4 linked regions of the Homo sapiens genome follow. The protein of the gene in region 2 purifies or fractionates together with the protein of the main gene of each other region. This does not show direct contact. Each region holds a gene or a part of one and is shown on either strand. Other genes may lie near its edges.

Region 1 (7,496 bases), on a different chromosome or scaffold from region 2:
AACACCATGAACTGCCCACTGCTCCCAGAAAGAAAGAAGAACTTGGAATATGAGACTCCCCAGGTCTCCTGACCCTCTTCCTTCTTGGAATGAGACCCAGGTAGTGCTCAGGGGATTTCTGGTGTTGGCCATGGACAAGCAACCAGTAGTGGGCTCACTTTAGGGACGCAAACCACAAAGCCCACCTCAGGAAGCCAAATTTCAACTCTTGCCCCTGGGGCAAACTTCTAGCAACCAGGCCAGAGGCAAATGTCAGACAGGATAAGGGATGACATCCCATCAATCAAGTTGAAAATGGGAGGGACCCAGCAGTTTGTAATAAAGCCATAAAACTGGTACTGACTCTGGGTGAGAGGGAGAGGCAGGGTGGTGACTAGAGAGCTGGTTCTGTGACCTTGGGAAATGGTCTCACCCCTCTGAGCCCTGGAGATGACCTGATGGGGCAGCTAGGAGGTCCAAATGGAAGGACTGCAAATAAAAGGCACTGGGAACTCTCAGGGGCCACACACATGTGAGATCTTCCCAATAAAATCAGCCTTAGCTTTAAAACCAGGAAATTGTTAGCAACAGGCTCTCACCTTCCTCCAACACCCACAGCATTGCCTATCTCCCTGTGATAGCTTGATTCTAAAGATAACAGCCTGCCTTTACTCAGAAACCAGGACTGTGACGTGTTTTGCACACATTCTCTTTTCACTTTCACAGTGTGTGACTATGGCATGCAACTTATGTTCTCTGTGCCTCAGTTTACTCAAGTGTTAAACAGGAATACTCACATGAGGATTACATGAGTTAAAATGGATAAAATGGATAAAAGTAGAGAGTAAATTATTTAAACTTTATCAAATCCTTGGTACATGACCTTAATACAATTAAGTATTTGTTAAATACATACATTTTAAAGAAACGTCATCATATCCACACACCTATGAGGCACCTGCCCAGGACCACAGAGCCAATCAATCAGGTGATGAGTGATTCCAGGCCAGCAGGAAACCACCGCCCACTGACACAGGGACTGCACCATCCATCCTTGGTTTGCATGGTGCCTGCCATGCTTCCTGTATTACTGTTAAATACATGGGGCAGGCCTTTGGAGGATCCCAATGTTTTAAAAGGGCAATACGAATATGATTCTAATACATAAAAAGTATGAGGGCAGCAAGAATTTAGTTACAAAACCCAAAAATCCTCAAAGAGAAGCCACATAGCACTGTGCAGTGTTACCACTGCCTCGAGTCTGGACAGGGCACAGGTGACCGAGACAAGTCTTATTTAACTGATTTCACAAGAAGGGTCCGAGTTTTATTAGACAACCCATGTCAAGGTACAAAATGATTAATGACAATATCAGCCATATTCTATTAGCCAAGTGCCACCTGTCACTATGAAACTATCCTGTAGGACATCCCTGGGCTCTCAGTTGCTAATGGGCTGCTGAAGAAATGAATGTCCTCAAATCGAGACCCTAACACAAAGAGATTCCAGAGAGTGGCTTAGAAAACCCAGCTACTCTTACCAATGTGGGGAAAGGGTCAGGGGAATGAACCTCTGCAGGACAATTTGAATTCCCAAACTGAGTAAGAGCGAAACAAATATGCAGGCAAGGCAAAGCCTCAGGGGGGCTCCTGGGTCTGGGGCAGGGGGTGGGAGACAGGAGAGGCAAAATGGCAGGGACTTGACAGCAGGTTCCTCTTGTCTACTTCTTCCTCCCGCCTCTCTCCTTGAGGGCCAGGTGGATGACTGCGCCATTGGCCATGTTGTAGTAAGCCAGTGAGTTGGAATCTTTGATGAAGATACCCTGGAAAACAGACAGCGTGCCTTAGCATGGGGCAACCCAGCCTTGGGGATACCGCTGCAACCTTACAACTGTGCACTTGGTCTGTTTGCGCTCTGGACTTAGCAAATACAGGAGCTTGTGAGAAGGTAGGGTGTTGGGGACTGGAGGCCTCTCATTCCTCCCACTGTTTCCTTTCTTCCCACCAATTACGCTCCTCCCCTTTGTCAACATTTGACTCAAAAGCTCAACTCCCCAAAAAGTTGGCCCCTCACCAACTCCATGGAGCTCTGACTCTGAAATCACAAGACCTTTAGGGATCACTTAGCCCAACAGCCTCAATGGATAGAGATAACTGAGGCCCAGAGCAGGGATTTGTTCAAGTTCAGAGAAGAAGAACATTAATGCCTCCATGTGACCTGGCATCAGGCGGGGCTAGACTATCACCTCCAAGTCAGGCTGCCTGAGGTCATACTGGCAGGGATGGCCCAACCACTGGATCAGGAACCCACCAGAGCATGCCTAAGTCTTGTCACTAAATCTCTATGCCCAGTCATTGAGGCAAAGAATCTTACAGATCCCACACAAGACTCTACTGTGACCCCACCAGAGCCTTGCATTGTTGGGCACACCTGCCCCAACACTCCCAGCCAGCATCATGACTTCTAGGATGGATTCAGATGGCCACACCCAGATATCACTCCACTCCCCTTTTAGCTTCCATGACAGATTTAGCTTCTGTGAAAGCAGAGGTGTCAGGACCCAAGGGACAGGTCTGTGGACAAACTGACTCACCTCATACTGTAGCTTCTGTTTCCCTGCAGGCATGCCTGTGGCTTCATGAATCTTCACCTTAATGACAGAGACCTGTGGGATCAAGCAGCGGTCATTCAACTCCTTGGTAAGGCCAGCTAGAGGAAGCTTTCCCCTGAATGCTTGGTTCCCATGCACCTGATGCCAGTTTCTGGCAGTACCCATACCTGGTCCGTGAGTGGGAGGGTGAAGACCAGCACCTGCCCATTCAGTTTCCATTCCGTCTTATCCTGCATGTTGGGCACCTGGACTTTGATGGACACTGGACCCTACAAAACAGGAGGTGGTCATTATGCCTAGGGAGCTCGGAGCCAATCAAGAACTATGCTCTGCTATCCCTAGGCCTGTCCAGACAATGTCACCTGTGCATCTGGGCTCCTGGATTCTGGCCTGATTCACCACTGATAACCCCTTGTGAGGTTGTACAAGTCACCCCCCTTTGCAAGATTAGGTTTCTTTTCTTTAAAACAATCTCTATCTTGTCTCTTGGTGAGTCTGGAGCTAAACTGAAGAACTTTAGTGAAAATACTCTGCACACCCCAAGGGAAAAGAATATGACCTGCAGGGTCGGAAGACCTGGATTCCCAACTCAGCTTCCCAGCTAACAAGGTTTGTCTGAGCCTCAATGTCATTATCCACCAGACAGGGTTCATGACTGTTTTGAGTATTGAGGGGAAGTGTCTGTAAAGTGCTTAGCTCTATCCTGGTACTTAAGCGTTTAAGAAATGGGAACTATTATTAAAAAACAAACAGAGCGGGTGCAGTGGCTCACACCTGTAATCCCAGCACTTTGGGAGGCCAGCGTGGTGGATCACTTACGGCCAGGAGTTCAAGACAAGCCTGGCCAACGTGGCGAAACCCCATCTCTACTAAAATACTAAAAATACAAAAATTAGCTGGGTGTGTGGTGCACACCTGTAATCCCAGCTACTCCGGAGGTTGAGGCATAACAATCACTTGAACCCGGGAGGCAGAGGTTGCAAAAACAAAACGAAACAATTTGGTCAAATACATTGGGGGAGCAGAGGCCGGGGCTGTTTCTGTCTCCTTACTGCAGCCTGACAGCTTCCCTAGTGATTAGCAGTGACAAGGTCCCCACCTCCCCTTATTCCAGGACCCCAACAGGATCCCACCCAACAGGCAGACCTCCTAAGGGCTAGAGCTGGGGAGGAAGGCCACAGTAAATTTTAAAACACCACACACAATTTCCTCCAGGTGTCTAGGGTCCCTCTCACACGTGAGTTGTGCTGCCCGTGCTGCTGGGTCTCCCTGTTGGCCTCTGTAAGTCTACACCAGAGGGACCACCACAGTCACCACCTCTGCCACCACTACCATCACCATCACCACCAATGCTCTCTGCTCCTCCAATTGTTGGCCCCACATTCACTGTGTGCTCAGAAGCCCTTAGATGCCTCCAACAGCTGACCTAGGCCCCAGAAGCCAAGACTGGGAGTGAAATAGGGTCAGTTTCGCAAGTGTACGACAGGGGCGGGACTGAACCCTCCAGCTAGAAACTTCAGCAGCATTCTGGGATTACATACCTTGTTTCTGCGCAGGAACTCCTCCTCTGGCATGAGGCTGTCCTCTGTCTTCAGTTTTTTGGAGGTGGGCTCATCTTCCATGGGAGGTGGGGGATGCACAGGGGGCATTGGGGCTGGAGCTGGGACAGGTGCCACAGGTGGAGCAGGCACAAAGGCTGCAAAGACAAGAATAAGCAGCCCCATGAGAGGGCAGAAGGGGCCCAGGACTCAGGGCTGATGAGAAGTTGAGAGGGAAGGTTGCAAAGGTTTCCTCTAGTCAGAGGTGTCAAGTGCTGTTCCCTGCTAAGTCTGGCAGCCAGCAGGTTCCCTGGCAAGGGGACCTGGGAGGCTGCCCAGATTGGACAGCAGAGGACTGCAGGAGGGGCAGGACTGATGGATGGAGCTAGTGCCAAGCAACAAGCATTTCTCAGGCCTCTGAGCCTGTTGGGGACCTGATCCCTGAATGCACAGACACTGGCTACACCATTTCAGCCTCTCATTTCTACCAGGAACGGTGGCTCCCAGCTCTAGGGTTGCGGATCTTTCAATGGGAAGCCAGGGCTCTCCTCTGGGCTGGATACCCTGCTGGAACAGCTGGCACTAGCATCAGCCACTGCTCTGCTGACAGTACTTGGCCCGTGGTCCCTGAACTAATGGCCTGGAAAATGATGCAAGAGATACTGACCTGTTGGCACAATCATGGGGGGTGGGCGGGGGGCCATAATAGGAGGGGCCGAGGGAGGCATGGGCACCACGTTGATTCTGGGCGCGTGGATGATGGGCGGCATGGGGGCGATCACTGAGCCTGGGGGCAGCCGGACCACAGATGCCATTGGGGGCCGGGGCATGACGGGTACTGCGGAGACAACTGTAGTACGAACTGGAGGTGGCATCTGTGCAGGAAAGAGACCCACAGATTACAGGAAGCCAAAGTTGGACTCCAAGGTCACACACAGTTGGCAACTGGCTGCCTGCAGCTCTGAGGATGGAGGTTAGACAACTACGTCCTGGCCCCCTGGGACTGAGAAACTGTGGCCTACACTGGGCGTCCAATAGGAACTGAGCTGCTGAGAGCCCGAGGATGACACTCTCTCTACTTGGGACTTGGCGGGTCAAACTCGACCTGCTACTTTGGCAAACACTGAAAGAGTCACTAAAGAGGCTGAGACCTTGGCCAGGCACAGTGGCTCATGCCTGTAATCTCAGCACTTTGGGAAGCTAAGGCAGGCAGATCACCGGAGGTCGGGAGTTCGAGACCAGCCTGACCAACACGGAGAAACCTCATCTCTACTAAAAATACAAAATTAGCTGGGCATGGTGGCGCATCCCTGTAATCCCAGCTACTTGGGAGGCTGAGGCACGAGAATCACTTGAACTCGGGAGGCGGAGGTTGCGGTGAGCCAAGATCATGCCATTGCACTCCAGCCTGGGCGACAAGAGCAAAACTTCATCTCAAAAAAAAAAAAAAAAGAGGCCGAGACCTCGACTAAGTCTCTCCTGGAGACAAGCCAACAGTCCTCAAAGACCCAATAAGCCCTGCAGCCCTTCTCTGACGCCAACTGGTTTCTCATATTTGCCACTTACCTCCCTCCCTGTTCCAACCCTCCTCCACAAACAGATCAAGAGAGAGGTTCCCACTTGCATTTAAAGGGCTCTTTCTCTTTCAAACTGACCCACCCAACACTCAGGCCCCACTAAAAGGCAGCTGCACTTCTCAGCCAACAGTGTCCGACCTCAAGAATGAAGCTCTAAAAAAGTCAGTTCCAGGGTAGATGCTGGCTTACTGTGGGTGGTCGGGGCACTGAAGTGATGGGTGGAGCCGAGCTGGGGATGTTGGTGGCTGAAGATGGTGGCGGTGGCTGTTGAGGGATTTCATTGGGCTTGCTGGGGCCAATCTTCTCTTTAGTGTCATCCTCTGGCACCAGGCCTTTGGCCTTGTGAATGGCCTCAATCTGCTCCTGGAGGGTGATGTTGGCCTGGGCAGCCTGCTGGGTCCGGGCCATGCTGCCTGAGTGGCCATCCCAGGTCACCTGCAAGTGAAAGCAAAGCCACAATGCTTCTGGAACTAAGACCAAGTATGGAAGACGGGGGGCAGAGAAGGCACTAGGTTCCACTTTAGCCGCACCTTTTCCTCTGGCTTCTGGATCTCCTCCTCACCGATCTTCTTACCAATGGCTGTTTCCTCTACACCGAAGATGTCAGTACGCCGCTCAGCCAACTGCTTCAAGCTGCTCTCAATATCCAGACCTGTACAGTCACAAAACAGAGGCAGAGGATAGAAAGAGAAAATAAACCAGGTGTCCTGACAAGAGAGCAGCTTTTCTGGTGTGCAGGGAGGAGGCTGGTTCCATGGGATGAGGGTGACTCAGGGCCCCAACTCTTGTCCTCTGGGCTCGGGGAAAGCTGCCCGATCTAAGCCTATAAACCCAGTGCTTGGGCAACCCCTCTGACTTAGAAAAGAACGGTAGGCCAGGCACAGTGGCTCATGCTTGTAATCCCAGCACTTTGGGGGGCCAAGGCAGGAGGATCACATCTGAGGTCAGGAGTTCGAGACCAGCATGGCCAACATAGCGAAACCCCGTCTCTACTGAAAATACAAAAATTAGCCGGGTGTGGTGGTGCGTGCCTGTAATCCCAGCTACTTGGGAGGCTGAGGCAGAAGAACTGCTTGAACGTGAGAGGCGGAAGTTGCAGTAGCCAACATGGAGCCACTGCACTCCAGCCTGGGAGACAGAGTGAAACTCCGTCATTCATAAATAAAACACATAAATAAATAAGATGGTGAGTTAGAGAGGGCAACTGTGTGGAAAGGGCCACATGGTGTAAGTGGCAGAGTCAAAACTAGAAGCCCAGTCTCCCACCTGTGGCACAGTTCCTGCCCCATTCCAAAGAGCTCATGGTACTCCAGCCATCAATGCTCTCCTTCTAAACAGCCACAGGAAGCCCTTCCAGCTAAAGCCAGAGCTTGCTCTGGGATGTCAACAGGCACATGGCATCTCCTTCAGTGTCTGCCTTTGGGGAATTTCTATGGGGAGTTCTTCTGGAAAGTGGGGAGTTCTCTTGCAATATCATAGAGTGCAACTCTCCTCAAAAGCTTTTGTTGACCTCAATTGTTGCTTTCTATGTTTGCTTAGAAGAAGATGGCTGTAATTCGGAGACTACCATGGGCTCTCCTGGAACCCCCACCTCACCTGGTGCGTACACCTCATCATCGCTCTGCTTCTCACGGATGGAGCGATCCCGCTGCTCCAGCCAGCGAGGGTCAAGAAGTCCAATGCGCATGTGTTCCTGCATTTTGCTGGCGGGGATCTTCTCCCCAGTAATGGGGGACACAAGATACTCATCTGGAGCAGGGGCTGGAGGCAAGGGCTTGGAGGCTAAAAGGA
Region 2 (7,496 bases):
AAAAACAAAGTATTTAGAGATACATGTAAGTTGTTATCTGCATGTTTATGGTATGTAAGGTTCACTGTACTATTTTACTTTTGTAGAATGTTTAAAATTTTCCTCAATTAAACAGAATAAAATAACTTTTAAAAAAGGAAACCAATAAGGAAATGAACTTTCCTAACCAAGAGAACCATCTAGCATGAAAACATATGATTATAGTTTAAACATGTAAAGTGTAACATTTTAGCCATAACTGATAAACATGTCACATCACTTATTTCACTTGAGAGAAAGCTGCTAAAAAACTAATTATTAACTGGGCTTGCATCGGAAAAACAATATGGAGAAAATTACATGGACAGTCTAAGTTTGCTATGAAAACAATGTACTTTTATTAATTAAAAGTCAAAAACAACAAAAGGGAAATTTCACAACCTTTGTTTGCAACTATATAATCTTTATGTAGAAAAACTATAAAGTGACAGTCTGATCTGGAAAGCAGCTCAACAATAAATCTAATCCTTACATTAAAAGTAAGTAAATTATAGAATCAGTTCACCCAAAAGAAATTGTCTTGCTGTAGAATATTTTAGCCCAACTGATTTCAACTATATTATTCTCATTTCTGACAAACTGTCTTTCCTGATATTTCAAATCACCAGAGATGTAACAGACAAGAACCCGTTGAAGTAAAAGAATAAAACACAAATACTCCAAGCACAATTACATGTGACATGATGAGTGCATTTAATCTACAATCTACAAAACTATACAAATTACCAATTATACATATAATCCATTTACATTGAAGCTCCATGAGGTGGTACTGAATAAACACTGAGGCATCAAATTTTCAACAATGGAACAAGGCTCACGGAACAGCAGCACATTCCCACCTTTTAGTCTAGCATCACAACACTTCCCCTGGGATTTGTACTTATTTATATATTATCTAAGTCCTAGGAAGTTGGTAACAAAAATTTTAAGTCAAAAGGATAATGAATTAAACACTCCCTAAAATCTATTCTAAAACATGCGTGTGAAATATGAAGAGATCAAGCACTTTGTAAATGTGAGATTTTACAGTCACGTGTTCCTTTAAACTTATACTAGTATCTTCACTAGTATCTGCACAATTTTCTGTAATTAGGCTTTTCACTAAAACTTAATAGAAGAGGAAAACAACAAAGAAAAAAACCTTATTTGTAAACTGTACAGTCTTAGAAAAGTGGTACTATTTATTTTTAAAACCAACTTTCTCTGCTAAAGAAATCACACTGTGTGGTCATCAGAACAGTTTAAGTCACTTTGGCAATACAGAGATTTATTTACCCTTATTTTGAATAACAATAATGATGATGATAAACTATTGTCACGGTCATATAATTTTTCAGAACTTACGCCACCATGGAGGCAAATGTGTACAGAATATTTCTAATAAACCTAAATTTAATCACAGTTAAAATTTCTCAAAAGTATTTTCAAGTGCTCAAGAATATTAAAGTTTGGGGGGAAATACCTAAGTCATAAATAAGCAAGTATTCCCTCCAAGATTCACTAATTGGGATAAAAGTCTCAGGGTAAGCCCACAAGAATGGTCTGCAATAAAGAAAAATCAGGTCTGTGTAGAGTAATTTCTGCCATCTTTAGCAGAAAAGCCAAAAACATTCTGAGCCAAATAAAAGCAAAGATCTTTTGATTCAGCGCCTTTTGTTGTGTTAGTTTTAATTTCTAACTTCTCAACATGTTATAGCTCAGAAATTCCCATATGCTTACTATCTGTAATAAGGAACTATAACGTTAAAGAAAAAATTCAGAGACGTGATCATTTTCCATCATAGGTCTGTCTCTCTTTGGTAAGAAACAGATCAAGACTTACTTATTTTCTCTCACCTACAGAAGAGAGGGGAGTTAAATGTCATTAACCTAGTAAACAATCCCTGTGTATAAACATTAAGTTGGAGGGTAAAGAGCCTAAGTCATGCCCTTTATAAGAACTGTGGAAAACAACTCTGGCACGTAGCTGTGGTAGAGGACAGTAAGTGTCCACAGATAGAACATGATCTTTCCTGCAACTGGAAGACCATGCTTATGAACATTCTAGTCAACCTATAGAAATTTTGCTCTGTAACTTGAGTGTCCTTCAGACAAGAAACATGAATAATAAGCTATTATAAAAATATGGTAGAATATCTTCCCCCTTATAAGTCACCAATTTCTGATCCCATTAAACTTTCATAGAATCCATGGGAGTATTAAGTAGGTTTACTCTAGGTAATTTGTCATGAAGTAAAACTGGAAATAACCTATCTAATAATACCATTTGCAATTCAAGAAAAAAAAATCCAATACAATCTAATATGTACATTAACAAACTTCACAGAATATATATTCTATCAGGCCTAAGAAATCCTCACCCACCCAACCAAAAGAAAGTCAGTTTCACCCACTGTAAGATAAACCATGACACTTGTATCTGGATCCAGAAAAAAAGAACTGCTAAACTCCAATGTAGTAGGAAAAATATTACAAATAAGCACCCAAAACTGACCTAAAATTTTCTACTCAATCCCGCAGGATGTCTTTTTTTGAAGAGAAATAAGCATCCCTTGCAACTTGACTGGAAAGATTATTACCTGACCAATTATTTCTAAGCCTATACTAGAAACCAGTGCAAGATGGAATGCCAAAATCACCACCAACTCGACACGACCGTTATTTTTGCAAAGAAAGGTAGTTATATAAAATTCCATTCTCCCAGGCAATGAGCAGGGGAGAAAAACATGTTACTTTTTAAATGGCTACATTTGTAGGTTTTTGAGTATCAGCACCAAATGTTCACTTTTAATTATTCTGAACAAATTTTTAGGAATTAATGTTTCCTAACAAAATGGACTAACAAAACAGTGAATAAGGAAATAACTTTCAAGCAATATTTGCATGCTGATAAGAACCATTAAGTAAAACAGTGATTGGCTCATTTCCAAAGCTACTGTAGGTGTGCACCGTTTGGAAATAGTGTATCTCACTGCTCAGCTAATATAGGAACTCTCCAAACCATGGGTGCACATCTTATTTTGTGACTAGGCAAGATTAAGTAAAACAAGTTGAAAAGATTTTTTTAAAAAGCAAGCTAAATCAAAATAATCCATTGTTAGAATAGTTTTCTACTTTCTCTTTTAGGGAGGAAAAAAAAAACCCATCAAACCAGTGTATGAAGTGCCTACATAAAAAACTGAAATCAAGATTCACAAATAATAGTGTCAGTTCAATTCTACATAACCCTTTATTATATTTATAGCAGTATTATGACCAACATTACACAAGTTTTATTTCTTCCTCATACCGTAGCAAATTTATTTTCATAATAGAGTTCAACTCTGCAAATGGTTTAAATCAACTTTTTGCACCTTGAATTTACAAACCATTAGATACGAAGTTTCCTGAAAAACATTTTATTTTTAAATTTTACTTAAAGCTATAACTAAACCCAAGTCTCTTGGGAGTGGGGGGGGACCAACTAAGCTGTTTAAACACAAACTTATAAAAAATATTCTGATGCCAGTGTTTGAAAGATAGCCTACAGAAGATTATAAAAGGTCAACGATCATACAAGAGAATTCTATGGCCAAACCTTGTTAGAAAATTTGTTTTACAAATAAACTTCTTTCATAATAGAAGAGGAAATGAAAAGATATTTAATTTCCCCCTAAAAGTAAGTAGTTGCTCAGAACATGGGTTGGATGTATGGAAATCATATTGCTTCTGTGAAAAAAATGTTTTAGCCAGGCATTCCACTAACAAAACGCCATGCCATATCTACCTAGTCTTTGATATCTGGGTATTAGTATTACCCAAGAGAAACTTATCAAAAGCAAATGGTTAGCAAACCACCAAATAGGAGTCTCAGGTCCCTTAATTTGGATAGTCATCTTAGTAAATATAAAACTTAAGCTACTTGAACACTGGGGCTTATAAAGTGCATCAGGTATAAGAAGCACAACAGTAGTGTGAAACTCAGTAGGACTTTAAGGGACTTAATATCACCGGTGGGGCAAAAAAACAACATTATAGTTTTCTGTTCAGATTTTATTTGAAATCTAATTCAAATTGTCAAAGCTACAAAAGGGGGGAAGACATCTGTATTATTTTTGCTAAGTCACAACATCCTAAAACAAAATACTACTACTGTCAGCAGATCCATTATACACATTTCTGATGAAATCCATTAGAACAATAAAAATTTCATCTTGAGAAATAGCCACAATGAAAGTAATTTACACAATATAAAACAATGACAGATCTACAGATGCAGTTGCTCATGAGTTTACACATGCATACACAAACAAACAAAAAACCCCAGGAATGCTCTTTCATTTGATTTTTTGTTTTTTTAAAAAACAGACCGTTCAGGCACAAAACAAATCGCATTTCCAATAAGTGACAGCATCTTAAAAATTTACGTCAGTGTTTGTTTTTCTTTGACTTTTTATGAGACCTGTGTGGAGATCTGGACTGGGATCTGGACTTCTTTCCTGATTTTTTAGGAGATCTAGACCGTGATCGCCTAGACCTTTTAGGTGTCCTTGAACCAGATGGTGATCTAAGGAAACAAACAAAAAAATCCCAATTGATAAAGTACTCATGTGATCAAAACTGTTTATCCTTAAACGATCGAAAATGATCTTTAACAGGGCACAGTGAAAAATCACTGCAATAAGACTATGAACTTCTAAAATTTAAACTCTATTGTACACACACACACACAGATTATTTTGTACTTACTATGCACTGCATCAATGATCATCAGTAGAGCGCTTGTTTATAAAGACAGATTTCTGTGCCTTATCACTGCTCTACTGAATCAAAATCTCTGGAGGATGGAACTAAGAATTTGCATTTTTAACAAGCTCCATAAGTGACTGATAACCCCCAAATTTGAACCTTTAATCTACAAGATAAAGTTCAAAGTTGCACCTAAGATCATGCACAAAATTTAAAAAACACAGCAGCTTTGAAGTTTATCATCCTGAAGCAAACAACTACTGCAGTATCATTCAAGGGCATCATTTAAGACATAATTTTGTAAGTGCTGTTCATGAAGGATTACTTAAACCAATAAAGATACATGTACATATACATACATATATAACACATACATACATATATATACAGGTGCCATTTAGAAAAGGAGAAAGGTATCTATTCTGTAAAGATTTTACTAAAAATAGTTACAATAATAAAGTATTAGCATACAAAGCAGTTTTAGCTCTCAGGAAAATTCCTCTATGTATCACCAGATAAATAAAACATTTCTGAACCATTTTTCTGGAACTAAAGGAAAAAAAAGTATACAAAATACTAAAATACATACTGAAAAAATGGTATTCATGATATGTATTTCCAAAAATATCTACCCAAGAACTTGCTAATAATATTGCTATGGGGGAAAAATGTGTGTTTCTTTCAGCTTTGACAAAAATCAAATAATATTCTATAGAAACTAAAGAACAGAACGAAAAGTAAAGCAGCTAACCCTATTCCACAGAAAACATTGGATATGATGTTTAAAATTCTTGGCTGGTCCTCACTTGTTGGAAGCCTTCACTTCAGTCATGAAAGAGATTGGGATGAGGAGGTGGGGAGGAATAACCAAAAATGAAAGTGTATCTCTTTGGTTTTCTAAAATCCTTAAAAAAAAAAAAAAATGTATGCCAACCAAATTATTTTCAAAAGCTGATGAAATGACAAGGAAACTGGTATCTGAAATATTAGCAAAAATGACTTGCATTTACCTTTTGGCTTTTTTGCTAACATCTCTAGGAGAATCTTTGTGAGATGACCTGGACCGTGAGCTCTCTTTATGAGATCTTTCTGAACGCTCTGATCGCTCCGATTTTGGTGATGGGGATTTCACTCGTCTACCACTGCTACTGCGAGATGGGCTGGGGGATGTACTGTGTCGCCTCTTCCTATGGAACAAAGCCCCCAAAACATTCCATAAATGAGCAAAGGATCGGGTATTCATTTTCCTTTACTAAATTAGCTATTAATTGCTACCAGCTTACTCTTTTATTCTAACCATGTAATGTTACTTTTAACAATACTCAAAGTCCTTTGTAACAAGAACAAATAAGTGTTAAAGATAGGTTGTCAAGAGACAACAACTGAATTCAACTAAATTGGATTTTCTCTTTGCAATAAGAGGTTATTGAAACAACTGGCAAAATCTAATTAAGGTCTCTGGATTAAATATCAGTTTTTTAAAATGTTGAATGTGGTTAAGAGAATGGGGCATCATGTTGGCAAATTATTCTTAAATGGTTGGAGGTGGGACAGAAGAGGAAGAATAAAGCAAAAGTAGAAATACTTTAACATTTGGGTAATGTGGGTGAAGGGTAACTATCAATTATACTATTCTTGCAACTTTCCTATAAATCTAAAACTATGTCAAAATAGTAATAAAAGTCAAAAAAGTGACAGACTTTTAACCAATTGGCATAACTTGTTATTTGTAACTATCTGTAGCGTGACTAAGCTAGACTTTTATTTGCAATGGCTTGGTCTTTTTATTAGGAAAACCTCAGTTCAGTTAAGGGAAACAATTTTCTTTACTCAATCAGAGATTTAGGAACCGTGAGAGTAAGACATAAAAACTGAAAGAGAAATGCTTTTGATTAGAATGAAGACTTAAGGTGAGCTTTGGCCTATGTATACAACCTCCTTTCAAGATAAGACTAAGACTCAAGTTTACAAGTAGCAGCCTCAGCACAGATACTGGAAAATATGCTTAAATTGGATGCAACAAGGAAAATCTAGCAAGTTGTTTTGTTACTTAAACCTCAGGTTTGATATCTAATACTGTAATTGAATCCTTGCACTGAACTAAGGCTAAGGATACCATATAAACCATGTGAAGGGATGATGCCCTGGTTAACTAAGTCAAGTGCCAACTAAATGCCCCATTTCTCCGCTATTTCTGCCTTCTGCAAGCAGGACCCAAACAAGTTTATCATGAACAAACACTTCCAGTTTGCGGGCATCAATGATGAAAGTATTATAAAACACCACTGCAAATCTTGAAACCAGTATATGCAATTAAATATGAGAAATGTTATACCTTTCCTTCCTTGTCGGAGTACACTCATCTTTTTCCTTCTTGTCTTTGGAGCGAGATTCCAATTTTTCTTTATCTTTCTTGTCTCTTTCTCGTTCTCTTTCTAACTCTTTCTCTTTCTCCTGTTATTTTTTATAGAAAATATTAAGTTGTTTAAAAATATCAATGTGGGTTAATCTCATTTATAGAACAATATCTTCTCTTACAGGAAATAATTTTTTAAATTACTACTTAAGGTACAATACTATTAAAAAAAAAAAAATCTACCCCTTCAGGGAAACTAGTCATTTCTTTTGCTTATACTGAATAAAACTAATCCTAGCAACAGCAGCTATACATTTACTGAGTGCTTACCACAGGCCAAACAATATACTAAACAGCTTTCCACAGACCA
Region 3 (7,605 bases), on a different chromosome or scaffold from region 2:
AGGTCAGGAGATGGAGTCCATCCTGGCCAACATGGTGAAACCCCGTCTCTACTAAAAATACAAAAAATTAGCTGGGCATGGTGGCATGGCGTGTAGTCCCAGCTACTTGGGAGGCTGAGGCAGGAGAATCGCTTGAACCCCAGGGACAGAGGTTGCAGTGAGCCAAGATCGCGCCACTGGACTCCAGCCTGGGAGACACAGCGAGACTCCGTCTCAAAAAAGAAAAAAAAAAAGTAAGAGATTTCTCTGTGAGGAAAAAAAATAAAGAAAAAAATTTAAAGAGCAAAAAAAGGAAAAATACAATCACAGTAAGACATAAACTATGAGCAGCATTTAAAACTGTTGATGGGAAGGAACAAACAACTCCACCACCTAATTCTAATAGTGTTAGAAAAAATCCCTGACTTGGCCAGGCGGAGTAGCTGTCACCTGTAATCCCAACATTTTGGGAGGCTGAGGTGGGTGGATTGCTTGAGCTCAGGAGTTTGAGACAAGCCTGGGCAACATGGCGAAACCCCATCTCTATTTTTAATTTAAAAAAAAGAAAGAAAGAAAAAAGAAAAATCCCTGACCTGAAGACAATGCCAGGGAGAACAAGCACCAGGCAGTCCCAGGAAAACATTCTTGGTGTCACTGTCAGAGTTGGAATGCTAGTTGGAATGAATCTCTGGTATGCTATATGCCATCTTTATTCCTATAGCCAAAACAAGGTTGGAAAGAATTTCATTAACATAAAAAGTCATTCCTTCTAGACATCTTCCCTCTTCACTCTATGAAAACAGGATTTTTTTTCTCTCTTGTTCACTACCGTATCCTCAACACCTAAATAGCAAACTAGTACATTTCCAATGTTCAATAAACATCTGTTAAATGAATGAGGCCAGTGTGGTGGCTTATGCCTGTAATCCCAGCACTTTGGGAGTCTGAGGCAGGAGGATCACTTGGGTGCAGGAATTCAAGACCAACCTGAGCAACATGGCAAGACCTTGTCTCTATTTTTTAAAAAAATGACTGAATTACCCTTCCTTAGATATTTTTTCCCATCCAATTCAAACAAAGGTTGCCATTTGGTTTTTTGTTTGTTTTTGTTTTTTGAGAAGGGGTCTTGCTCTGTCACCCAGGGTGTACTGCAGTGACAGAAGACAGATCATGGCTCACTGCAACCTCCACCTCCTGGGCTCAAGTCATCCTCCAGTCCTCTTGCCTCAGCCTTCCGGGCAGCTGAGACTACAGGCAGTGCCTGCCAGGTGTCTAGACCTAAATGTAATACTTTGGAGAAACTACTATGTAACAAGTACTGTTACAATTGCAAGAAATAAAAGATGGATGTGATATGGTCCTTAACCCTGAATAGCTCACAGCCTGCTGGGGGGCAACTCCATTCCTCAAACCCATGCCACCCTACAGAGGTCCCATCTTCTGCCTTGTTTAACCCTGAGAAAGATGCTTCTGCTTTATTTTTTTATGAAACGCTTTCTTATACAATAACTTTAGTCCTCATGAAAATGTTTATTTTAAAATTAACTCTCTTGCCAAGCACAGTGGCTCATGCCTGTAATCCCAACACTTTGGGAGGCCAAGACGGGAGGATTGCTTGAGCCCAGGAGTTTAAGACCAGCCTGGGCAACACAACAAGACCCTGTCACAACAAAAAAAATACAAAAATCAGCCAGGCATGGTGGCCTGAGCTTGTAGTCCCAGCTACTGATGTGGGAGAATCACTTGAGCCCAGAAGGCAGAGGTTGTGCATTCCAGCTTGGGCAAGAGTGAGGCTCTGTCTCAAAATAAATAAATTAAATTAAATTAACTCTCTTGTTTTTACAGATGTGGAATATGAAGATCTGCAAAATTAATGTCTTGAACAAATTCAATCCCGGCCAGGCGTGGTGGCTCAAGCCTGTAATCCCAGCAACTTTGGGAGGCCGAGGCGGGAGGACCTTAAGTCAGGAGATCAAGACCAGTCTGGCCAACATGGTGAAACCCCCGTCTCTACCAAAAATACAAAAATTAGCCAGGCGTGGTGGCAGGCGCCTGTAATCCCAGCTACTCGGGAGGCTGAGGCGAGAGAATCACTTGAACCAGGGAGGCAGAGGTTGCAGTGGGCCAAGATCGTGCCACTGCACTCCAGGCCTGGGCAACAAGAGCAAAACTCCGCCTTAGGAAAAAAAAAAAGAATTCAATCCCAGTCCAGTCAGGTTAACTGTCTTCCAAGAATTTTTTTCTTTTTTAGACAGTCTCTCGCTCTGTCACCCAAGCTGGAGTGCAGTGGCGCGATCTCTGCTCACTGCAAGCTCTGCCTCCCGGGTTCACGCCATTCTCCTGCCTCAGCCTCCCGAGTGGCTGGGACTACAGGCGCCCACTACCAGGCCCAGCTAATTTTTTGTATTTCTAGTAGAGACGGGGTTTCACCGTGGTCTCGATCTCCTGACCTCGTGATCCGCCCGTCTCGGCCTCCCAAAGTGCTGGGATTACAGGCGTGAGCCACCGCGCCCAACCAAGAATTTTTTTTTCTATCCTTTTTTTCCTTCTTTTTAAAGAGACAGGGTCTCACTCTCGCCAAAAATGGAGTGCAGTGGTCCGATCATAGGTCACTGCAGCCTCGAGCTTTTGGGTTCCTCCCGCCTGGGCCTCCCAAAGTGCTGGGATTACAGATGTGAGCCACTGTGCCCAGCCCCTTGCAATAATTTAATCTGAGATTCTGACTCCAAACGGCATGCTTTTATTTCATTTATTCATTCATTCACTCAACAAATATTTACTGAGCATCCACTACATACTATGCGCTGGAGATGCGATAGTAAAGGAGGCTCAGAACAAGCCCACTGCTGTCCTAACATACCACCAAGCAAGCTGTAACCTACTGTAAGGCCCCAAACTATTTCACCTCCCTAAAGCTCAGGTTCGTCATCTGTAAAATGGGGGTAATATAATGCCTAACTGGCATGATACACAGTGCCTGGCGTTCGTGAATGGCAGAAACAACCACTAAAACAACTCATTACAAAGGACTAAGAAACGTCTCGGGGGCCAAGAAGGCTAAGTCACTCCCAGGAAGGGCCCAGCCTCTGCCAGCCCCCGACTCCGCGGACTTGGGGCACTCTGCCCGCGCGCCCGCACTATGTTGGACACACTCGCCACCTCCCTCGATAGATCGAACACCATTCCCTCTTTCGTTGCCCCGGGGGATCTCCCAGCAGCTATCAGTGGGAGACGCTCACACACCCCCAGACCCCCGCCACCCCGAAGACTGGACTGAAGGAATCGCCCAACGGTCCAGGCCAGGCGGCCACTGCCTTTGTCCACTGGGAAAGCAGATCCGGGAGCGGTCGCCCCGGTGCCACTACTCCTCACTCTGTGTTCACCTCACTGTAGAAGGTCATAAATGCTTCCTCGGTGCTGCCTCCGCCGCCTGAAGTCCCGCTCTCTCCTGAAGCCGCCATTTCCCCGGCCCAGCCACCACGTGACCCTTCTGCGCAGGCGTCGCCTCACGTGATTCTTACAGGTCCGCTCCTCTAGCCCCGCCTCCCGTCTGAGAGGTTCTTAAAGGGCTCGCAGCCCAGCCAGGCACTTTAAAAGTAGGTGGGCTTTTTAAAATTTAAACGAATTACACATAACATATAATTAACCACTTTAAAGTAAATAATGTGCTTAAGTTATTGTTAGGTAAAAAATAATAAGAAGAATAAAAGAAAAAGTGAATAATTCAGTGGGTTTATTTATTTATTTATTTTTGAGACAGGATCTCTGTCGTCCAGGCTGGAGTCGAGTGGTGCAATCACAGCTCACTGCAGCCTCGACCTCCCAAGCTCAAGCGATCCTCTCACTTCAGCCTCCCGAGTAGCTGGGACTGCAGGCGCGCGCCACCATGCCCGGCTAATTTTATGTACTTTTGTGGAGACGGGGTCTTGCCATGTTGCCCAGGCCTCCCAAAGTACAGGAATTACAGGCATGAGCCACCGCGCCGGACCGGCTCAGCTGTCTTCAGAACATTCACAATGTTCTGCAACCACCATGTCTACCTGGTTCCAAAATAGTTTCATCACCTCAAAAGGAGACTTAGTATCTACTTTTTTTTTTTAGACGGAGTCTCACTCTGTCACCCAGGCTGGAGTGCAGTGGCGCCTCCCCGGTTCCAGAAATTCTGCCTTAGCCTCCCGAGTAGCTGAGATTACAGACAAACGCCACCATGCCCCGCTAATTTTTATATTTTTAGTAAAGCCGGATGTTCACCATGTTGGCCAGGATGGTCTACGATCTCCTGACGTCGTAATCCGCTCGCCTTGGCCTCCCAAAGTGCGGGGATTACAGGCGTGAGCCACCGCGCCTGGCCGAGGAGACCTAGTACCTATTAAGCAGTTACTCCCTATTCGCCCCCTCTCCCCAGTCCCTGAAAACAAGCAATCTGTGTTCTATCTATATGGATTTACCTATTCTGGATATTTCACATAAATGGAGTTAAACAATATGTGAATACGTATTTCACATAAATGGAATTAAACAAAATACCAGGTAGGGCTGCTATTTTCTCAACTAAAATATAATCAATAAAGCCAGTTTTACTATTTCATAGAAAACAAAGAAGGTTTTGTTTTGTTTTGTTTTTTTGAGGCAGAGGCTTGCTCTGTTGCCCAGGCTGGAGTGCAGTGGCATGATCTTGGCTCACTGCAACCGCCGCCTCCCAGGTTCAAGCAATTCTCCTGCCTCAACCTCCTGAGTAGCTGAGATTACAGGCGCATGTCACCACGCCCGGCTGATTTTTGTATTTTTAGTAGAGACGGAGTTAGTCAGGCTGATCTCGAACTCCTGACCTCATGATCCATGCGCCTCGGCCTCCCGAAGTGCTGGGATTACAGGTGTGAGACACCACGCCCAGCCCCAAAGAAGGTATTTTTATAATCATCAATCAGGTAGATAATCTGGCCCAATTCTCTCATCTAAAAAAGAAGAAACAGAGAAGAGAAAATGAGTTAGAGAAGAGCTATAAACTTCATGAGAGTAAAGACTACTGTTGTCTTGTTCACATTCATTAGATGGATGAAGGGAGGTTAAGGTCAAGCTTTCCCTAGACTCCTACTTATCCTTTTTTTTTTTTTTTTTTTTTTTTTTTGAGACAGAGTTTCGCTCTTGTTACCCAGGCCGCAGTGCAATGGCGTGATCTCAGCTCACCGCAACCTCAGCCTCCCGGGTTCAAGCATTCTCCTGCCTCAGCCTCCCAAGTAGCTGGGATTACAGGCATGTGCCACCACGCCTAGCTAATTTATTTTTTATTTTTATTTATTTATTTTTGAGACAGTTTCTCTCTTGTTGACCAGGCTGGAGTGCAATGGCGTGATCTCAGCTCACTGCACCCCCTGCCTCTCAGGTTCAAGCGATTCTCCTGCCTCAGCCTCCCGAGTAGCTGGGATTACAGATATGCGCCACCATGCCCAGCTAATTTTTCATATTTTTTTTTTAGTAGAGATGGGGTTTCTCCATGTTGGTCAAGCTGGTCTCGAATTCCCAACCTCAGGTGATCTGCCCGCCTCGGCCTCCCAAAGTGCTGGGATTACAGGTGTGAGCCACCGCGCCTGGCCTGCTCTTTTCTACTGCATTGCACCACATTGCCAAAAGTGCAGTTATTAAGCCCATTCAACAATATGTTGCTAACGAAAAAAACAAACTAAAATATTTTTAAAAGGTTTATTCTGAGCCAAGATGAGTGACCATAGCTTGGGGAAACACAGCCTCAAGAGGTCCTAGGAAACTGTGCCTGAGGTGGTCAAGTTATAATTTGGGTTTTCTTTTTTTTTTTTTTGTTTTGAGACGGAGTCTCGCTTTGTCACCAGGCTGGAGTGCAGTTGCGCAATCTCGGCTCACTGCAACCTCCGCCTCCCGGGTTCAAGCCAATTCTCCTGTCTCAGCCTCCTGAGTAGCTGCGATTACAGTCGCGTGCCACCGCACCCGGCTGATTTTTGTATTTTTAGTAGAGACGGGGTTTCCCCATGTTGGCCAGGCTGGTCTCGAACTCCGGACCTCAGGTGATCCACCCACTTCGGCCTCCCAAAGTGTTGGGATTACAGGCGTGAGCCACCGCGCCCAGCCAGAACACTGACACTTCTCATAACAAATGAACGCGATTTATGTATATCTAAGCCAGGGCACATTGGACGTCGGTATCCTGGACATCAGCATCCTGGACACAGCTCCCAAACCCCGAATTCCCCCATTTTATTGATGCTAGCAGGCCAGGGAAGGGAAAACTTCCTTTGGGCTTTGAATAATAACGACTTTAGAATTGAAATCGTGGGCTGGAGGTGGACGCCACGCCTCATTCTGATGGGTCCAAGAGCCGAAATTTCGGCTTCTGGCACTCTCCTCACTCAGCTCTCTAAACTCCTCCATCATTCCTCTTTCCAGTCCTTTGGCCCTAAGCCCTTGCTAGCGGTTGGCTAAGAAGAAACCCGTCTCTTGCTCGGGATTCGCTGTGAGCTCCGGGAAGCCCGCCTCCGCTCTCCCGTGATTCGCTACTCCTGTGTTCATCCGCCCCTCCGTCGACCAGATTGGGTGCTTGGCCGTCCCTGCCATTAGCGCGTAACGAGAGACTGCTTGCTGCGGCAGAGACGCCAGAGGTGCAGCTCCAGCAGCAATGGCAGTGACGGCGTTGGCGGCGCGGACGTGGCTTGGCGTGTGGGGCGTGAGGACCATGCAAGCCCGAGGCTTCGGCTCGGATCAGGTACGCTGCGGCAGTGTCCGCTGCTCCAGCCCCGCGGGCGGATCCCATCTTTGCTTCCGTACCTTTACCAGTGTCCCTGTCTCTCTGCAGTCCGAGAATGTCGACCGGGGCGCGGGCTCCATCCGGGAAGCCGGTGGGGCCTTCGGAAAGAGAGAGCAGGCTGAAGAGGAACGATATTTCCGGTGAGGCTCACCGGGTCCCAAGTCCAGCCCTGGATCTCCCAATGGCCTTCCAATCCTTAAACTGCCAATCGCCCCACCCGTTCCTACCTGGTGCCTTGGGCGCCCCATCCCCCAACAGAACTCCCGGGCCCCAATCCAGTATACCCTAACCCTTGATGTCCCGACCGTTGCCACGTATAGGGCACTCCCAGTTACCTGCACAACAGTTTCAGGCCCCCAAACCGTTTCCACCGGCGGGTCTCCAAAACAACCCACGGCTCAACTCCTCCTTTATCATTACCATCTCCCGCGTGGAGTTCTCCTCAGGTCGTGCGAAACACCCCCAGATTCTTCGCACAGTGTCTAGATCCGACCGCCCAACGTTTGCCTCCCAGCCTGACTCCCTCGGCCCTTACCCACCTGTCACCCCCTCTACGCTCTCCTTCCTCGCCAGCACGCCTTAGCTTTGCAAGCCTGCATGCATTCAGGCTTCTCAGGTGTTTCTAGACCCCCGACTCCGCAAGAGTGAGGATGATGGGAGCTGGTCATGGGAGCTACTTATGGTTGGACACCATCTTCTAAAGGCTTTTGCCCTACTCAGCCCAACCTAGACCTGTAGATTTCCCTCTCCTGCTTAGGAGTATGGAGTGGGCTGGGCCTCCCTTTGCCAGCCTTGAGTTATCTTTAACTGACTTCTGTCCACTCTGGAGAGCAGTGAGGAATTAATCTTGC
Region 4 (7,496 bases), on a different chromosome or scaffold from region 2:
GCCCCAGTGACCCTGTAGAAGGAAATACCCACCCAACCTTGGGGAGGGTGGAGACAGCAACAGTGGGAAGGGTGAGGGCTGGGTGGGGACAGAGGGTCGGCAGATGTGGCTCTGTTGAAGCCTGAGAGATGGGTCAGGGCTGGAGAAGGGGATCCCAAAGGAGGGTCCTGATGGCTGAGCAAAGTCAGGTGACCGCGTGTGTGTGCGTGCAAATCAGTGACGAGGGCAGGAGACAGACACAGAGGCCAAGGAGGCCGTGGCTGAGAAGGCAACAAGGAGACGCCAAGAAGCTGCCCCATGAGAGGAAGGAGTGCAGGGGACAGTGGCCCCCAGGAGACAGCAATGTGACAGGTGAGGCCGGGGTCTAGGGGAGAGGACAGGGCATGCAGCGAAGGTGCACAGGACACCTAGACCTCGCAGTCCTGGAGACAGAAGCCTGGTGGCTCACAGAGACCCCCCACCCGGGGTCCCCGGACAAGTGCCCCCTAGTCTCGGGACAGGCCAAGCCAAGCTACCGACCGGAGCAAGCGGCCACCCAGGAGGGTTGAGGAGGAGCGCGAGGAAGTGGCGCTCTGGGCACGGGGTGGCGGCGCTCACCAGTGGTGCAGCACGTCATTGATCAGGTAGATGAGGTGCAGCCGCAGCTCGAAGTGTGCCCCATCAGCCGTGATGCGGTTCCGGAGGTGGCCGGCCATCAGCTCACAGTGCGGCGGGGACTTGGCATTGCTGAACATCCAGTTCTTCCCGGCCTGCAACAACCGAGCCAATGACGAGTGAGCAGGGCCGCGGCTCCCCCAGGCACCCACTGCATCCCTGAGAGCGCGTCACCATCAGCTCAGGGAAGGACACACCATGAGCGTGGGGGGCACAGGGTCCCACAGCCTCAGGAGCTCCAGGCGGGAGGGAAGGGCACCCATTGTAACAGCCCTTAGCCCAGATTGGCTACGACAGGCCCTGCCTCAGGGAGGGACCAAGGGAAAGCTGGGCTCTGGGAAGTGCTGGCCCCTCACCGAGATGGCGTCCTTGGTGCACGTGTCGATGATGGGCTGCAGGAGGTTGTCAAACTCGTTCATGTCTAGCTGGGTCTCCTCCAGAAGCTTCTGCATCTGCTGCTCCACCGCGTGGGCCACGGCCGCTGTCACTTGCTCCTGCGGGCGGGGGTCGGTGGGGTCGAGAACACATGAGGAGGGACCCGCAGCCTGAGCCCTCCGGCCTGGCTCAGCAGGGGCGGGGTGGGGACATGGTGGCGATGCCCGGACTCTGGGCTGCTCTGGCCATCAGCTCCCTTGCTTGTCCCCAGCAGGAGGAGATTCTGTCTCTCATGCCTGCCGTGAATCTGTGACAGTCCCTCCTGGAGTGGGCAGGGCACTGACAGGACATACCAGGAGACAACACCTGCCCTCCAGGTAACCAAGGAAAACACTGCAGCCCAGAGGAACAAACAACCTCTGCAAACCAACTCAACAAAAAACAAAGGCGGGGCGCGGTGGCTCATGCCTGTAATCCCAGCACTTTGGGAGGCTGAGGCGGGAGGATCGCTTGAGCCCAGGAGCTCCAGACCACCTGGGCAACGTAGCGAAACCTCATCTCTACAAAAAATAAAATACAAATTAGTTGAGCATGGTAGTGTGTGCCTGTGTTCCCAACTACTTGGGAGGCTGAGGCGGAAGGATTGCTGGAACCCAGGAGTTCAAAGTTAAACAGTGAGCTGTGACTGTACCACTGCACTCCAGCCTGAGTGACACAGCAAGACCTTGTCTCTAACAACAACAAAACAACAACAACAACAACAACAAAAAGAAAAGAAAAGAAAAAAAAAGACAAATGAGGCATGGTGTGAACGACAGGCAATAGAAGAAGAGGATACACCCATGGCCTCTAGTGAAGCAAGAAGGGGGCAATCTCATTCCTCAAGAGGAAACACCGGTTAAAGTGCGACTGGTAAAAACAGAGCTGCCATGCGGACCAGCGGTCAGTTACGGCTGGTCAAGGCAGGCCTCCCACTCCATGATGAACAGAAGCTGAGGGTGAGCATTCTGGAACTTTCTTTTCTTTTCTTTTTTTTTTTTTTGAGATGGAATCTCGCTCTGTCGCCCAGGCTGAAGTGCAATGGCATAATCTCAGCTCACTGCAACCGCCACTTCCCGGGTTCAAGCAATTCTGCCTCAGTCTCCCGCGTAGCTGGGACTACAGACACCTGTCACTGCACCCAGCTAATTTTTGTATTTTTTACTAGAGACAGGGTTTCACCATATTGGCCATGCTGGTCTCAAACTCCTGACCCTGTGATCCGCCTGCCTTGGCCTCCCAGAGTGCTGGGATTATAGGCTGAGCCACTGTGCCCAGCTGGAATTTTCTGAGAGCAATATGACAGTGTGATTTTATGCCCTGAACCTAGTACTGAGCGTGGGGTTGGTGTTTTGGAGGTTTGGTATTCTATTCCTCTCATTTTTCTGGCAATGCACTTGTAGTATTTTATTTATTTATTTTTTCTGAGACTGAGTCTTGCTCAGTCACCCAGGCTGGAGTGCAGTGGTGCAATCTCAGCTCATGCAACCTTTTCCTCCCAGGTTGAAGCAATTCTCCTGCCTCAGCCTCCCAAGTAGCTGGGATTACAGGCGTGCACCACCACGCCCAGCTAATTTTTGTATTTTTCATAGAGACAGGGTTTCATCATGTTGACCAGGCTAGCCTCGAACTCCTGACCTCATGATCTGCCCATCTCAGCCTCCCAAAGTGCTGGGATTACAGGTGTGAGCCACCACACCCAGCCAATGCACCTGTATTCTATTTGGCGAAAGTTATCAAACTGTTGGACCAGGAAGGACAAAAGGGTCCTTCTGGCCAGGTGGATCACCTGAGGTCAGGAATTTGAGACCAGCCTGGCCAACCTGGTGAAACTCCATCTCTACTACAAATAGAAAAATTAGCCGGGTGTGGTGGTGCATGCCTGTAATCTCAGCTACTCCAGAGGCTGAGGCAGGAGAATCGTTTGAACTCGGGAGGTAGGGGCTGCAGTGAGCTGAGATCACGCCTCTGCACTCCAGCCTGGGCGACAGAACAAGACTTAAAAAAAAAAAAGGGTCCTTCCCCAACCAACAGCTCCAGGTGACCTAGCTACTGTGTGGTGGGGCCAATGGTAGGCACCAGAGGCTGCCTGGCCACAGCCATTAGGGAGCTTCAAGGTGCATACGTGCCCCACAGTCCCACTCAGGGGGGTCCACCCCAGGGTGATGGGTGCACGCACGTCCAGTGGCTTCACTGAGATGAGAAGCAGCCTCTGTGTCTGGCATCAGGGCTGGGGGTGACAGTGGCTGACATGCACCGAGCCCTGGGTGGCAGGGGGGGCCCTGTCCTCACTGACACCTGTTATTCATTCTGATGAGCAGACGCAAAAACAGAGGCACAGGGGAGCTGCTGGTGTCTGGCCGAGGAGGCGGCGGGCCCATACCTGTCTGAGCGCCAGCAAGTGCTGCTCCTGCTGCTGGAGGTTCCACTGGCTCTGCTGGATGAGCTCGTCCATGGATGGCGCGCCCTGGGCCGGCGGGATGGGCGCGGCGGGGGCCAGCGGGGGCTGTGGCAGGGGTGGCATGGTGGCGGCTGGCTCCAGCTCCGGGGTCTGCTGCTTGCAGATGACTGGAGGGAGAGGAGGAGGGGTGCCCCATGAGAATGCAGATGGGGGTCTAGGTGTCCCCTTGGCCACCTCTCAGCCACAGGGGCCTCCCCCTCCCCAGGGACTCACCATCCACGAGGGCCTGTTCATAGCCTCATGCCCACGCAAACCAGCTCCTCCTAGTCTCGGGTCCTGCCCTCCCTCTCACAGGATCCCAGCCTCAGCATTCCATCTTCGGGCCGTCCCCTCCTCGGAGAACCTAGGAAGTCCCCTGGCCGCTCTCTCGCCAGCACCATCCAGTCCTTGCGCAGTGTCCTTCCGGTGCAAGCTAAGCTTGCCTGCCCACCTCCTCACCCACCTAGGCCCCACCTGATGCAGAACCCAGGCCTCAGTACCTCTCATCCTCCGACCTCCTCGGCCACTCCCTGACCTCTGCCACTTAAGCTACCCATTGACTGTTAAGATGTCACAGCCACCGGGCCTCTGCACATCTGGCCAGAAAGGCACGAAGCCGCACCCCCGAGCGCACACTGCGGCCTCCCCCACACCTGCCTTGTCCTTCTACTGACTCTCCTTGCTTCTCCAGCCCTTGGGGACAGAGACCCCTCTGCATTCAGGGGTGCATCCAGTTTGAGGCAGCAGTGAGACACCCATTCTGCCGGCAGAAGCCTGGGTCAGGGTGGGCGCAGGTCCCAACTCTGGCCAGATGGGGCAGGTGGTGAGGTCTCTGAGGAAGGGACCCGGCTCATAAGGAGGCCCTGGACAAGATGACCTGCCTCTCTCTCCGTCTTGGGGCCGCCTGGTCTAAATGTGACCAGGTACCCCTGGAGCCCTCCAGAGCCCCACTCCAAGGGGACCAGGACAAAGCCAAAGATAAGGGAGGTGGGGTGTCAGGTGGAAGGTGTCGCCCCTCACTGGGCGCTCAAGTCAAGTCTCGGGGCTGACTGTGCCCTCCAGTTTGTGCACCCAAAGCCACCCTACAGGATGACCCCCAACTTCTGCACTGAATCCCACCCCTCCCACTGTCTGAGGGACACTGCTTATTGATATTTCTTCTATCTCTTATTTCTCCAACTCCTCCCTCTTTACCCGTCCCTCCCCAGCAGCATCTAAACACATTGGGCTGGGCATGATGGCTCACGCCTATAATCCCAGCACTTTGGGAGGACAAGGCGGGTGATCACCTGAGGTCAGGAGTTCGAGACCAGCCTGGCCAACATGGCCCTGTCTCTACTGAAAATGCAAAAAATTAGTCGGGCGTGGTGGCGGGCACCTGTAATCCCAGCTACCTGAGAGGCTGAGGCAGGAGAATTGCTTGAGCTTGCAAGGTGGAGGTTGCAGTGAGCCGAGATGGCGCCACTGCACTCCAGTGTGGGTGACAGAGTGAGACTCCATCTCAAAAAATAAAAAAGGAAATAAATAAACACATCAGAATATTCTGGGTTGGAAACTTCTCCCTTTACCCCATGATCCCTCTCTAAACGATTTCTCAGACAAGACTCACTCCAGATCTTCACCTCCCCTTTATCTCAGCCTGGTGCCTGCTTGCCACTCCCCGCACCCCCCTCCTTCCCCCAGGCAGCTGAGGACACCCTCACTCAACTCAGCCCCCCGGGCCTGTCGCAGGTGCTTGCCTCCCTTGGCCTCCATGTGTTCGCCCCCTCAGTCCCTTTCTCCCCCTTTACCAACCCCTCTCCCGTTGGACCCTCACATGCTGGGGTGCGCGGCCTGTGTTCTGAGCCCTGTCCTCCGCTCTACGCAACCGCCGGGCAACATGAGCTACTCATTCCTGTGGCTGCGATTGTGCATGGTGTGATTCCTAAATCCATCATCTCCATTCTGGATTCCTGAGCTTTGGCCCTAACCACCAACTGCACGGCCCACTGTGTTTCCAAGGGGCCTGTGTTTCCTCTCACCCCCTACACCTATGTCCCCTCCTGTGCTCCCCGCACCATGGTTGGCACCACCATCTGCCCAGAAACCCAGGCCAGAAGTAGCATGTGCCTCCCAGTGACGAGCCACATAGTGTCAAGGCGGCCTCCGAGACATCACTCCAATCAGTCTATGTCCCCGCTGTCACCACCATGGATCTGCTGTCACCTGCGTCACCCCAGAACCGGTCTTCCTGCATCAGGTCCCATCCCTCTACCTCTTTTTGACATGGCAGTCATGGTATTGCCACTTATGGAGTGGTCCCTGGGCTACCCAGCGGTGACAGACGGTTATGGAACCAGAAAGGGAGCATTTCAAAACCTTTCTAGCAGCGTGATGGTTCACGGTCCACATTGTTACTGTGCTTTGCAGAAGTTTTGGTCCACACACAACAGGTTAGAAACTTAAAACACAACACCAGAAATGGTCCTTCACCACAGAGTTCGTGAAGCTCCATTCTACAACAGTTGAGGCCCAGGCTTTAAGGCGTGGGGTGCAGAACTGGCTGTACTGTGGCTAACCCAGCTTCACAACACAGACCTAAACCTTCCACGAGTCTCTCCCACGCTTCCAGGATACACTCCTCACTCCTCTCCAAGCCAGGTCCCCGACTCCTCCCCAAGCCAGGCCTCCAACTCCTCCCCAAGCCAGGCTCCCAATTCTGCACCCCCACCTCTGGCCACTCCAAGAACCCCTCCTACTCTGGGCTTCAGCCACCCTAAGCTCTGGGTTCCCCATTCCCTCCAAGGGCTCCTTCCTCTGCCCGGAACACTTTTCTCCCCTTGTTTTCACCTGGCCAACTCCAACACACCCTTTACATCTAGCCAAGATATCATCACCCACAGAAAGCACTTCTTGGCTGGGTACGATGGCTCACGCCTGTAATCCCAGCACTTTGGGAAGCCAAGGTGGGCGGATCATGAGTTCAAGAGATCAAGACCATCCTGGCCAACATGGTGAAACCACATCTCTACTAAAAATACAAAAATTAGCTGGGTGTGGTGGCGCACGCCTGTAGTCCCAGCTACTTGGGAGGCTGAGGCAGGAGAATCGCTTGAATCTGGGAGGCAGAGGTTGCAGTGAGCCAAGATCTTGCCACTGTACTCCAGCCTGGGCAACAAGAGCAAGACTCCATCTCCAAAAAAAAAAGAAAGCACTTCTTGGCTTCAATCTTCCTGGGCTATAAGCATAAGCACCCTCTCCTTCCTCATAATGGCACCAGCTTCCAAGTGGCCACCCCCCCGCCCCAGAAAGGGAAAGCAGCCCTTAGCTCAGTCACCCAAGCCAAAGCACCGTCTGAGGTGTCTTCCTCCCCTGCTCATTACACCATCAGGTCGTCAATATGCAACTGGCGCCCAAGTTCATGGATTCTACCCCTTCACCCCACCTGCCCCCCATGCTCCCTCCCTCAGGCTCAACCTACTGACTTAATTCAGACCCCACCATCTCTCACCTAAACAACTGCCCTGTTTGCTCCCCTGCAGGCCTCACTGCTCCCCAGGCTGGTCCCTGTAGCTTGTCCTACACCACCGGCCACACAACCCAAGCCACCCTCTCCCTTGTTTAAAACTCTTGTGGCTTCCCGCTGCCTTTAGAAACGGTTTTTTTTTTTTTTTTTTTGAGACGGAGTCTCGCTCTGTCGCCCAGGCTGGAGTGCAGTGGTGCGATCTCGGCTCACTGCAAGCTCTGCCTCCCAGGTTCACGCCATTCTCCTGCCTCAGCCTCCCAAGTAGCTGGGACTACAGGCGCCCGCTACCACGCCTGGCTAATTTTTTGTATTTTTAGTAGAGACGGGGTTTCACCGTGTTAGCCAGGATGGTCTCGATCTCCTGACCTCGTGATCCGCCCGCCTCGGCCTCCCAAAGTGCTGGGATTACAGGCGTGAGCCACCGCGCCCGGCCTAGCAACGGTTTTAAACTTGGTGTGCTGGGGCTAAGGAAGGATCGCTCTA

What was found.
Region 1: the proteins of U2SURP (region 2) and SF3A1 purify together in Homo sapiens (affinity purification with mass spectrometry; 4 studies listed by BioGRID and IntAct, with this or other methods). This does not show direct contact.
Region 3: the proteins of U2SURP (region 2) and DNAJC8 purify together in Homo sapiens (affinity purification with mass spectrometry; 2 studies listed by BioGRID and IntAct, with this or other methods). This does not show direct contact.
Region 4: the proteins of U2SURP (region 2) and CHERP purify together in Homo sapiens (affinity purification with mass spectrometry; 4 studies listed by BioGRID and IntAct, with this or other methods). This does not show direct contact.

The regions. Positions count from the first base shown.
Region 1 is NC_000022.11:30,332,895-30,340,390, forward strand, and holds part of SF3A1 (splicing factor 3A subunit 1), read right to left. Parts: intron 7,488-7,496; coding exon 7,302-7,487; intron 6,358-7,301; coding exon 6,236-6,357; intron 6,141-6,235; coding exon 5,895-6,140; intron 5,004-5,894; coding exon 4,796-5,003; intron 4,287-4,795; coding exon 4,132-4,286; intron 2,860-4,131; coding exon 2,758-2,859; intron 2,645-2,757; coding exon 2,573-2,644; intron 1,802-2,572; coding exon 1,700-1,801; 3' UTR 1-1,699. UniProt on the Homo sapiens protein: Component of the 17S U2 SnRNP complex of the spliceosome, a large ribonucleoprotein complex that removes introns from transcribed pre-mRNAs.
Region 2 is NC_000003.12:143,053,404-143,060,899, reverse strand, and holds the end of U2SURP (U2 snRNP-associated SURP motif-containing protein), read right to left. Parts: intron 7,225-7,496; coding exon 7,106-7,224; intron 5,958-7,105; coding exon 5,781-5,957; intron 4,589-5,780; coding exon 4,450-4,588; 3' UTR 175-4,449; downstream 1-174.
Region 3 is NC_000001.11:28,229,559-28,237,163, forward strand, and holds the start of DNAJC8 (dnaJ homolog subfamily C member 8), read right to left. Parts: upstream 3,472-7,605; 5' UTR 3,441-3,471; coding exon 3,363-3,440; intron 695-3,362; exon of another isoform or gene 573-694; intron 1-572. Other genes in the region: ATP5IF1 (ATPase inhibitor, mitochondrial isoform 1 precursor), read left to right, coding at 6,626-6,712, 6,803-6,894. UniProt on the Homo sapiens protein: Suppresses polyglutamine (polyQ) aggregation of ATXN3 in neuronal cells.
Region 4 is NC_000019.10:16,532,001-16,539,496, forward strand, and holds part of CHERP (calcium homeostasis endoplasmic reticulum protein), read right to left. Parts: intron 3,637-7,496; coding exon 3,452-3,636; intron 1,149-3,451; coding exon 1,011-1,148; intron 750-1,010; coding exon 598-749; intron 1-597. UniProt on the Homo sapiens protein: Involved in calcium homeostasis, growth and proliferation.